Linked DNA regions of Homo sapiens: region 2 is linked to region 1. The links come from fine-mapping of genetic effects on gene expression. A gene starts in region 1. The other region holds a variant in brackets. All regions are shown on one strand. Distances are between the middles of the regions.

Region 1 (4,384 bases):
AGGGCTGCAGCCTCAACACCATTTGTTTTTTAAAAAGCAGAACATCTTTACAGGCTCAGTGCCAGCTCAAACTGGCAAGACCAGAGAATCAGCAGAGACTGACCAATGTGCCGGGTAAGGGGGATGGGAGGAGGAGCTACGGGAACAGATCATCAGGGAAACCTTCAAGAGAGGAAATAGGGGTGTTTCAGGAACATAACAAAGAACAAGTTGACTAATCGTTTATTCCAGGGACCGCGGCGGTGAGGGGGGTGCCATCCAGGGCTAAGTATCTAATATTTTAACTTCAGGTAAAAGCATAACATTTAAACCTGGATATGCTTGGGGCTCACAGCTCTCTTAAAAAGGTGAGGTGAGAGGGGGCAAGATATTCCTGCTCTTTTATTACGCTGTTTATGGAGTCTCCTAGGAAACTTCTCCCGCGATGCCTCCAGAGCAGACCTAAGACAGCCCCCGCTAGTCCAGTTCCTAATGCAATAAGCTTAACTCAGCAGAGATCCCATCATGAGCTTTCTGCAGGGCCAAGCTGCTCAAGGCCGCTGCTGCCAGTCCAAAGAAGTTCTGTTGCGCAGACAAAAAAGTTACCTGCAGCAAATACCTAATATTCATAGTGGGAAAGGGAGAGAGAGTGAAAAAGCGCTTTAATCTTTGAGGGCCAGGCATTTTCTGTGACTTGGAAAAGAGGAATCTCTGCCCAGAGCCGAATCCACATGTCAGAACGGTGTCTGGGATGTCTGCCCTCAACAATGACATCTCCCTCATATAATGTTTCAGGACCGGCCAGAAAACCCTCCAACTTGCCAGAAGGACAGACTGCACCTCCAACAGCTGTGGCACCAAAAGTCTTCTTAGGAGGCACCCAAAGCCCTCCCGAGATGGGGGCGGGCCTCCCGATGAGGTTGTAAGGGGGCCAGCCTCCAGGTGCAGGGACACCTAACTCTGGCCAAGCACTGGAATAAGCAATTTACCTATCTCACTCCATCCCCACAACAGCCCCTTGGAGGCAGACACTACAGTCATTCCCCTTTTATAAAGGAGGAAACAGGCTCCGAGGTGTTACACAACCATTAAACAGCAGAGCCAGCCTCCAGTCACCCCGAACAGGTGGTCCTGACCGCTGCTGGATATGGGGGAAACACACAAAGCGTTTGGAGGAAGGAGTCGATAGAGTCGGGTAACACAAGATGCAGCCAGTGTTTATACCTCTTCCTCGTCCAACATCGGTGGTCCCAGGACACTGGAGGGGAGGGCCTGGATGGGGAACGTGAACCCGAAAGGACCCCGGCACTGCTGGCAGGGGAAGAGGCCAGGACCCCGGCTCCTCTGGCAACGCGGGGAACCCCAGATCCATAAACCCTCCCGAAGGAGGAAGACCCAAAGGGAATGCATGAAGCCACGGGGTTGCCAGGCGGCCCTTCCCTCCACGCTTGTTTTGTCAAACAAGGGCCTCCGGCCGGGGCCTCAGGGGGTCGCGGGGGTCCCTACCTGTAGGCCAAAGTCATGCACTCGAAGAGCTTGGTGAGCGAGGCGTCGATGGACAGGTGGCAGGAGCTAGTCTTGCCGAAGCTGTAGGTCTGGCACGTCTGTTTGTTGACCGTGTCGAAATCGTAGCCCTTCTTGGGCGGGTGCTCTCGGTGCGGCGACGACACCATGAAGTGGCCGCTGTGGATGATCTGCTGGCGGCGCGGAGGTTCCTCGCGGCCCGGCCCGGCCCGAGGCGGCGGTGGCGCGGCGCTCGCGTGGGCCCGGGCCGGGGTGGCCGCGCCGGAGGCGGGCGGCGGGGACGGCTCATCCGTGTCCGAGTCGTCGTCGTCCTCGGACACCTGGGGCTTGAGCAGCACCTGGCGGCCCCGGCTGCGAGGCCGGCGCGGGGAGCACATGAAGACGTCGGCGGCCATGAGAAGGGCTCGGCCGGGGGCATCCCCCGGAGCCCGGGGCAACGCGACAAGCGCGCGAGGCAGAGGGGCGCCGGCCCGGCCCGGCCCGCGCGCCGACTGTCCGCGAGCGCGCGGCGCGGCGGGAGGGGGAGGGCTCCGGCCCCGGCGTGACGTCACCGAGGCGTCTGGGCCAATCGGCTGCCCGCGTCGGCCTCTTAAAGGCGCAGGGGAACCTTTCCTTAGCTAGGCGGACCAAAAAAAAAAAAAAAGGGGAAGCGGAGGCCACGCCTCCCGGCCGTGCCCCTCGCCACCTCCTCCTCTCCCGGCGTCCGTGGGTGCTGAGGGACACGGTGGCCGGGCGGAGCGGCTCGCCGGTGTCGCGACCTGGGAGAGGCGTCGGCAGAGTGGGGCCGTGCTAGTCCCGCCCCCGCCCCGCTCCGCGCCCCGGGAGTCGCCCTGTGGCTTCGCCGCAGGCCCGGCCGGCTCCACGTGGTGGGTGCGGGTGGGGCTCCTCGGCCTCCAGGCCCTGCTTTTTCCCTGCCGGGCGGTACCGAGTCCTCGCAGCTCACGCCTGAGTTTGCCGGACGTGGTGGCTATTGTCCTCATTATTCTCATCGTATTGATGGGAACACTGGGTGGCTGAATACCGACAGGATTTTTCTCAGACCTGGAGTCCACAGAGCTGGGAACTTGCTTCCCCTGCGCGTCCCCAGCTCGGCGCAGCTGTTGAGTGGCAGCGCCCCTGAGCCCAGCGACCTCCAGACCCCAGCTCTTTTAACTTCAACTCAGCATGCTGTTGTTATTTTTTTAAAGTTTGACGGACGAGCCAGCCCCCGAAACAATTCTAAAAGGGGAGTATCTGAGCCAGAGTTTTCTTCTCTGTCAAATGGTGAACAATTCCGTTTCCTCAGAAACTTGGGACAGTTTAAAAATGGCTATAGTGGGGCGCGGTGGCTCATGCCTGTAATCCTAGCACTTTTGGAGGCCGAGGCGGGTGGATCACTTGAGGCCAGAAGTTCAAGACCAGCCAGGCCAACACGGTGAAACCCTGTCTCTACTAAAAATAACAAAAATTAGCCGGTCGTAGTGGTGCACCCCTGTAATCCCAGCTACTCGGGAGGCTGAGGCAGGAGAATCGCTTGAATCCGGGAGGTGGAGGTTGCAGTGAGCCGAGATTGCGCCATTGCACTCTAGCCTGGGCGACAGAGCGAGGCCCTGTCTCAAAAAGAAAAATAAATACAAATAAAAATGGCTATAAGTTGCTTAGCAGGCAGGCTGGCACAAAATGAGCGCTAAATAAATGTGCCACAGGTTGGAGGATTTGGATCAACCAGACCAGAGGTGCCTAGAAATTGCCAATAGTCCACCACTATTTGACCTGCAGAAACGGCAACTTCGCGTGGCACAACCTAACTGACAGACACCTCTAGAAAGCTGTCAAGGTTTCCGGGGCTCAAAGCCAGTCTGGGGTGGGGGTGGCAGGGCATCAGAAGAGCCAGTGAGGCCCATGAGCCAGGAACACCCATCCTAATCCTAGCAGGGCGTCCAGAGTCCACAGCCACTCCTGCACTCTGCTTTGTTTTATTGTTGTTTTGTTTTTTGAGACAGAGTCTTGCTCTGTCACCCAAGGCTGTAGCGCAGTGGTGCAATCACCATGTTGGCCAGGCCGGTCTGGAACTCCTGACCTCAAGTGAGGCCTGCCTTGGACTCCCAAAGTGCTGGGATGACAGGCATGAGCCACCGCGCTGGCTCTGCACTCGGCTTTGAAGCTGGTTTCAGTTCCAGATTTGAGTGGGGGGTGAGTCCCCTGCCCCACCCTCTTCCTGACAAAGGCCTCCTGAAGGGAACAGAGGGCTCTCACCAAAATGGCTCCATTAACTTATTTCCAAATGTCTGTATGGAAAAATGGGCTGGATGACTGGCAGTTTTCAGGCATGAGTTCTAGATTTCCCTCTTCAACCTACTACTGTTCCCAATGCTGGTTACAAGTGTTTAAAAGTCCATCCTTTGAGTTGCCTTCCTTTCTCTCAAGACTTGTCTCCTTGGTCCTTGGTAAGTTTACATGCCCAGCCACTTTTTTTTTTTTTTTTTTTTGAGACAGGATCTGGCTCTTTCACCTGGACTGGAGTGGAGTGGTGCCATCATGGCTCACAGCACCCTCAACCTCCAGGGCTCAGGTGATCCTCCCACCTCAACTTCCCAAGTAGCAGGACCACAGGTGCACACCACCGTGCCCTGCTAATTTTTGTACTTTTTATAGAGATGGGGTCTCGCCATGCTGCCCAGCCTGGTCTCGTCTCGAGTTCCTGACCTCAAGTGATCCTCCTGCCTCAGCCTCCCAAGGTGCTAGAATTACAGGTGTGAGCCACCATGCCCTGCTTTTTTGTCTTTGTGTTTACCTATATTTTCTTTCTTTTTTTTTTTTTTTGAGACAGGGTCTCACTGTGTCACATTGGTGTGATCGTGGCTCACTGTAGCCTCAACCTCCCCTGCCCAAGCTATCCTCC
Region 2 (4,384 bases), 38 kb before region 1:
CGGTATTGTGCTTTACCCATGATCAACCGCTGTCTGAAAATATTACATGGAAAGTTGCAGAAATAAACAATCTATAAATCCTAAACCGTGCACCATTTGGAATAGCAAAATCTCACGCCGTACCGCTCTGTCCCGCCTGGGACATGACTCATCCCTTTGTCCAGCAGATCCACACTGTAGTTGCCACCCACCTGCTAAGTCACTTAGCAGCCATCTCAGTGATCAGATCCATGGTTGTGGTATCACAGTGCTTATGTTCAGGTAGCCCTTATTTTACTTAATAATGGCCACAAAGCATAAGAGTAGTGATGCTGGCAATTCAGATATGACCTAGAGAAGCCTTAAAGTGCTTTCATTAAGTGAAAAGGTGCAAGTTCTCAACTTAACAAGGCTGAGGTTGCTAAGATCTATGGTAAAAACAGATTTTCTATCCATGCAATTGTGAATAGTAGATTGTCATAATTGCTCTATGTTATTATTGTTGTTAATCTCTTACTGTGCCTAACTTATAAATTAAGCTTTATCACAAGTATAGAGCTAACATGTGAAAAAAATGTACTGTATACAGGGTTCGGCACTATCTGAGCTTTCAGGCATCCACTGGGGTCTTAGAACACACCCCCTCAGATAAGGGGGGACTACTGTATTACTTTTTCAAAATAAACAAGGAAAAAAGACCAGGCAAGGTCCAAGACATTCTAGGGCTTCTAGTTAATTGCGGAAGGCAATTCATCACAAAAACAGATATATCAGTCAATTCTGTGCACCAGATCCAGATATGAGGATCACGGTTATTAGGTGGTTTCAATGAGGGAGTGGAGGAATGACTCTTCCAGGAGTCCAATTCACTTGCTTCAAAAGGGCAGTCTCTATCGGCTAGTCCTGGGATGTGGGCCTGGTCCCACAGGCTGCCAGCAGCCAAAGCTAACAGGCTACAGACGAACAAAGGTTCATTGAGGAGCTGGCACGCGGGAGGGGCCACTGCCAATGGCTTGACAGGAGGGGCAGTGTGCATGTCGGGCCACCTGCCCGAGCAGAGAGTCTCCTATGGAGGAACCCCAGGGGGTTTCAGGTCCTGCTCCATCCTCCTCGTGGATCTCTTGGCATCTTTTTTCTTACATTCAAAGAACATCCTGTTGGAGAAGTAGGATCCGAGGGCTGTGGCGGGAAGGCTGGTGCACACTCCAGTGTGCGAGTGTTCGAGTGCCTGCAGGTGCTCCGCCCACATGCGTGCCAGCTTGTTTGTGAGGGTGTATGTTTGTCTTTTCTGTGTGAAAAGCAGGGAGTAATCATTTCCATGACCACCCAAAAATAGGGCAACTTGAGGGAGTGGATACCAGGCAAGATGTGCCTGCCTGCAATGGTGACTTCACCCTGCCTGGGATGGGCTGTGTCCAGGCCTTCCACTAGAGGACAGACACCACCATGTCTAGACCACTTCTAACCAACAAAGAAAGCAGAGTGGTTCCATTTCTGGCCTCGTCACCCAGGCTGGCCCGGCCCAGCCCACCTTCTGCAAAACAGTGACCACATCCACCACACTGGACAGCTGGGTCAGCCATAGCAGATATGAGGGCCTGGGCCCAGCACGTGGTCAATGCTGGGCATGGTGAGGCATGCTCCTGAGTTTTAGGAGCTTCTTGGGCATGTTCTTAAGTTTCCTGTCAGATTCAAGCCATAAGTGGACTTTCAGGCAGGGGCAGGGGCAGGGACCCCTGGGCAGGGCACCATTTAAAGCCAGAGTCCTAGGTTTCCTCGCCAGAAGAGTAAACCCCAATCAGACCCCAAGGTGCTCCTCCGGACTGGAGATGAAACCAGATTTGCAAGAGGCAAACTTGGTATTTCACTTCAATTTGCATCATTTGTTAATGAAATTTCATAATTAAAAACCTGCGCGTTAGCCATGTGCCCCATATTTTCTGAGCTGTTTGCCCATGCCCTTTGCCTTTTCTAAAAACCAACATGGCACATGTATACATATGTAACAAACCTGCACGTTGTGCACATGTACCCTAAAACTTAAAGTATAATAATAATAAAATTAAAAAAAAACTTATTCTGAAGTAATTATAGACTCTCAGGAAGTCACACAAATGGAACAAAGAGCTCCACGTACCCTTCACCCAGCTTTCCCCAGTGGTGGCTCTTGTATCGCTGGAGCACAATGTCAAAGCCGGGAAATTGGCTTTGGGACATTACTGGTAAACAGACTACACGTCATTTACAGTCATTGAAATGTCAATGTTGTGTGTGTGTGTGTGTGTGTGTGTGTGTGTGTGTTTTCAGATGGAGTCTCGCTCTGTCACCCAGGCTG[G/T]ATTGCAGCAGCATGATCTTGGCTCACTGCAACCTCCACCTCCCGGGTTCAAGTGATTCTCCTGCCTCAGCCTCCCAAGTAGCTGGGATTACAGGTACTGCCATCATGCCTGGCTAATTTTTGTGTTTTTGTAGAGACAGGGTTTTGCCATGTTGGCCAGGCTGGTCTTGAACTCCTGACCTCAGGTGATCTGCCCACCTCAGCCTCCCGAAGTACTGGGATTACAGCTGTGCCCAGGTGTCAGCCATTGTTTCCCTTGCTATTTTATATTCGCAATATTATAATATTAGTGGTACTAATGCTTTGTGATGTTTCTGCAAATGTTTCCCCTAGGATTTTCATTGTCTTTTACTTGTTTTTATGGCATGTCTTTTGAATGTAGGTTACATATTTGTGTAGTCATCTCTACTGGTCTTTTTTTTTTTTTTTTTGAGAAGGAGTTTCGCTCTTGTTGCCCAGGCTGGAGTGCAATGGTGCGATCTTCACTCACTGCAACCTCTGCCTCCCAGGTTCAAGCAGTTCTCCTCCTCAGCCTCCTGAGTAGTTGGGATGACAGGTGCCCGCTACCATGCCCAGCTAATTTTTTGTATTTTTAGTAGAGACGGGGTTTCACCATGTTAGCCAGGGTGGTCTTGAACTCCCGACCTCAGGTGATCCACCTGCCTCGGCCTCCCAAAGTGCTGGGATTATAGGCGTGAGACACCGCGCCCAGCCACTACTGGTTTTTCTTTAGAATTTCTTGTACTGCTTCCCTGCCTGCCCTCCCACCCGTTCAGAGATTTAGTTTTCACTTTTATCTTTTAAGCTTTTGTAGTTTTATTGATTAAAATATATATCTATCCATAATAAAAGAAAATTCAAACAAAAAGGAAAAGTGCAAAGAACAAAAGCAAACTCACCTTCAATTCCGCCACCTAGAAATAACCTGTTACATTTTGGTGATAATATTGTGTAGCAAAGAAGTAGTCTTCCTGGCTGGGTGCGGTGGCTCACGATTGTAATCCCAGCACTTTGGGAGGCTGAGGCAGGTGGATCATTTGAGGTCAGGAGTTCAAGACCAGCCTGGCCAACATGATGAAACCCCATCTCTACTAAAAATAAAAAAATTAACCGGGCAGTAGTGGCGCATACCTGTAATCCCAGCTACTCAGGAGGCTGAAGCAGGAGAATCGCTTGAACCCGGGAGGTGGGGGTTGAGGTGAGCCGAGATCGTGCCACCGCACTCCAGTCTGGGCAACAGAGTGAGACCCTGTCCCCCCCCACCAAAAAAAAAAAAAAAAAAGAAGTCACCTTCCCAAAGAGAGGTCAAGCCTTTGCCCTGGGCTGCTGGGAGGTGAATTCTAGGCCCCTGGAATTAGAAATTAGTTCTGCCTGATGGGAGTGTCTTTGTTTGCCTGGGGGCTTTGGCCACAGAACAGTTACCAATCTGACTTACAATGGGGGCCTGGAGCACAGGGTATCAGTTCCAACCTCCAGAGGAAAGGCTAACTAAAGGTCTTAGCCAGACATCTGGGCGGGGCTAGAAACTAAAGGTCAACCACAGGGGTAGAATGGATCAAGTCCAGTAAAAACTTGCGTCTTGGCTGATTTTAATTTGAATCCTTTCCTTATAATATACTGCAACCATGAATATAATACTTTTCAGTGCGTTCTGTTTTTCTAGTGAATTATTGAAACTGAGGGTGGTTTTGGGAACTCCCCAACTTGCATTTGGTATTAGAAATGAAGGCAGTCAGCCAGGCGCAGTGGCTCACGCCTGTAATCCCAGCACTTTGGGAGGCTGAGGTGGGTGGATCACCTGAGGTCAGGAGTTTGATAACAGTCTGGCCAACATGATGAAACCCTGTCTACTAAAAATACAAAAATTAGCCGGGTGTGGTAGCACATGCCTGTAATCCCAGCTACTTAGGAGGCTGAGGCAGGAGAATCACTTGAACCTGGGAGGCAGAGGTTGCGCGGTGAGCCAAGATTGTGCCATTACACTCTAGCCTGGGCAACAAGAGTGAAATGCTGTCTCAAAAAAAAAAAAAAAAAAGGCCGGGTGCAGTGGCTCACGCCTGTAATCCCAGC

Evidence for each region. PIP is the estimated chance that this variant, and not a neighbour inherited with it, causes the effect.
Region 2: its variant is the best candidate, but not a certain one, in a credible set for the expression of MLXIP in tibial nerve (GTEx, PIP 0.85).

What each region holds. Positions count from the first base shown.
Region 1 is chr12:122,076,368-122,080,751 of GRCh38, reverse strand. It overlaps MLXIP (MLX interacting protein), which reads right to left and starts at 1,996. Exons shown (of 17, transcript NM_014938.6): 1 at 1,486-1,996. The coding sequence starts at 1,898. RefSeq lists enhancers at 1,414-1,653, 3,721-3,770 and silencers at 1,714-2,163, 2,174-2,453.
Region 2 is chr12:122,113,950-122,118,333 of GRCh38, reverse strand. All of the region lies in intron 1 of MLXIP (MLX interacting protein), which reads right to left. Among named protein-coding and RNA genes, the nearest start is that of MLXIP, 37 kb to the right of the region's middle. The variant G/T (reference allele first, on the strand shown) is at 2,315.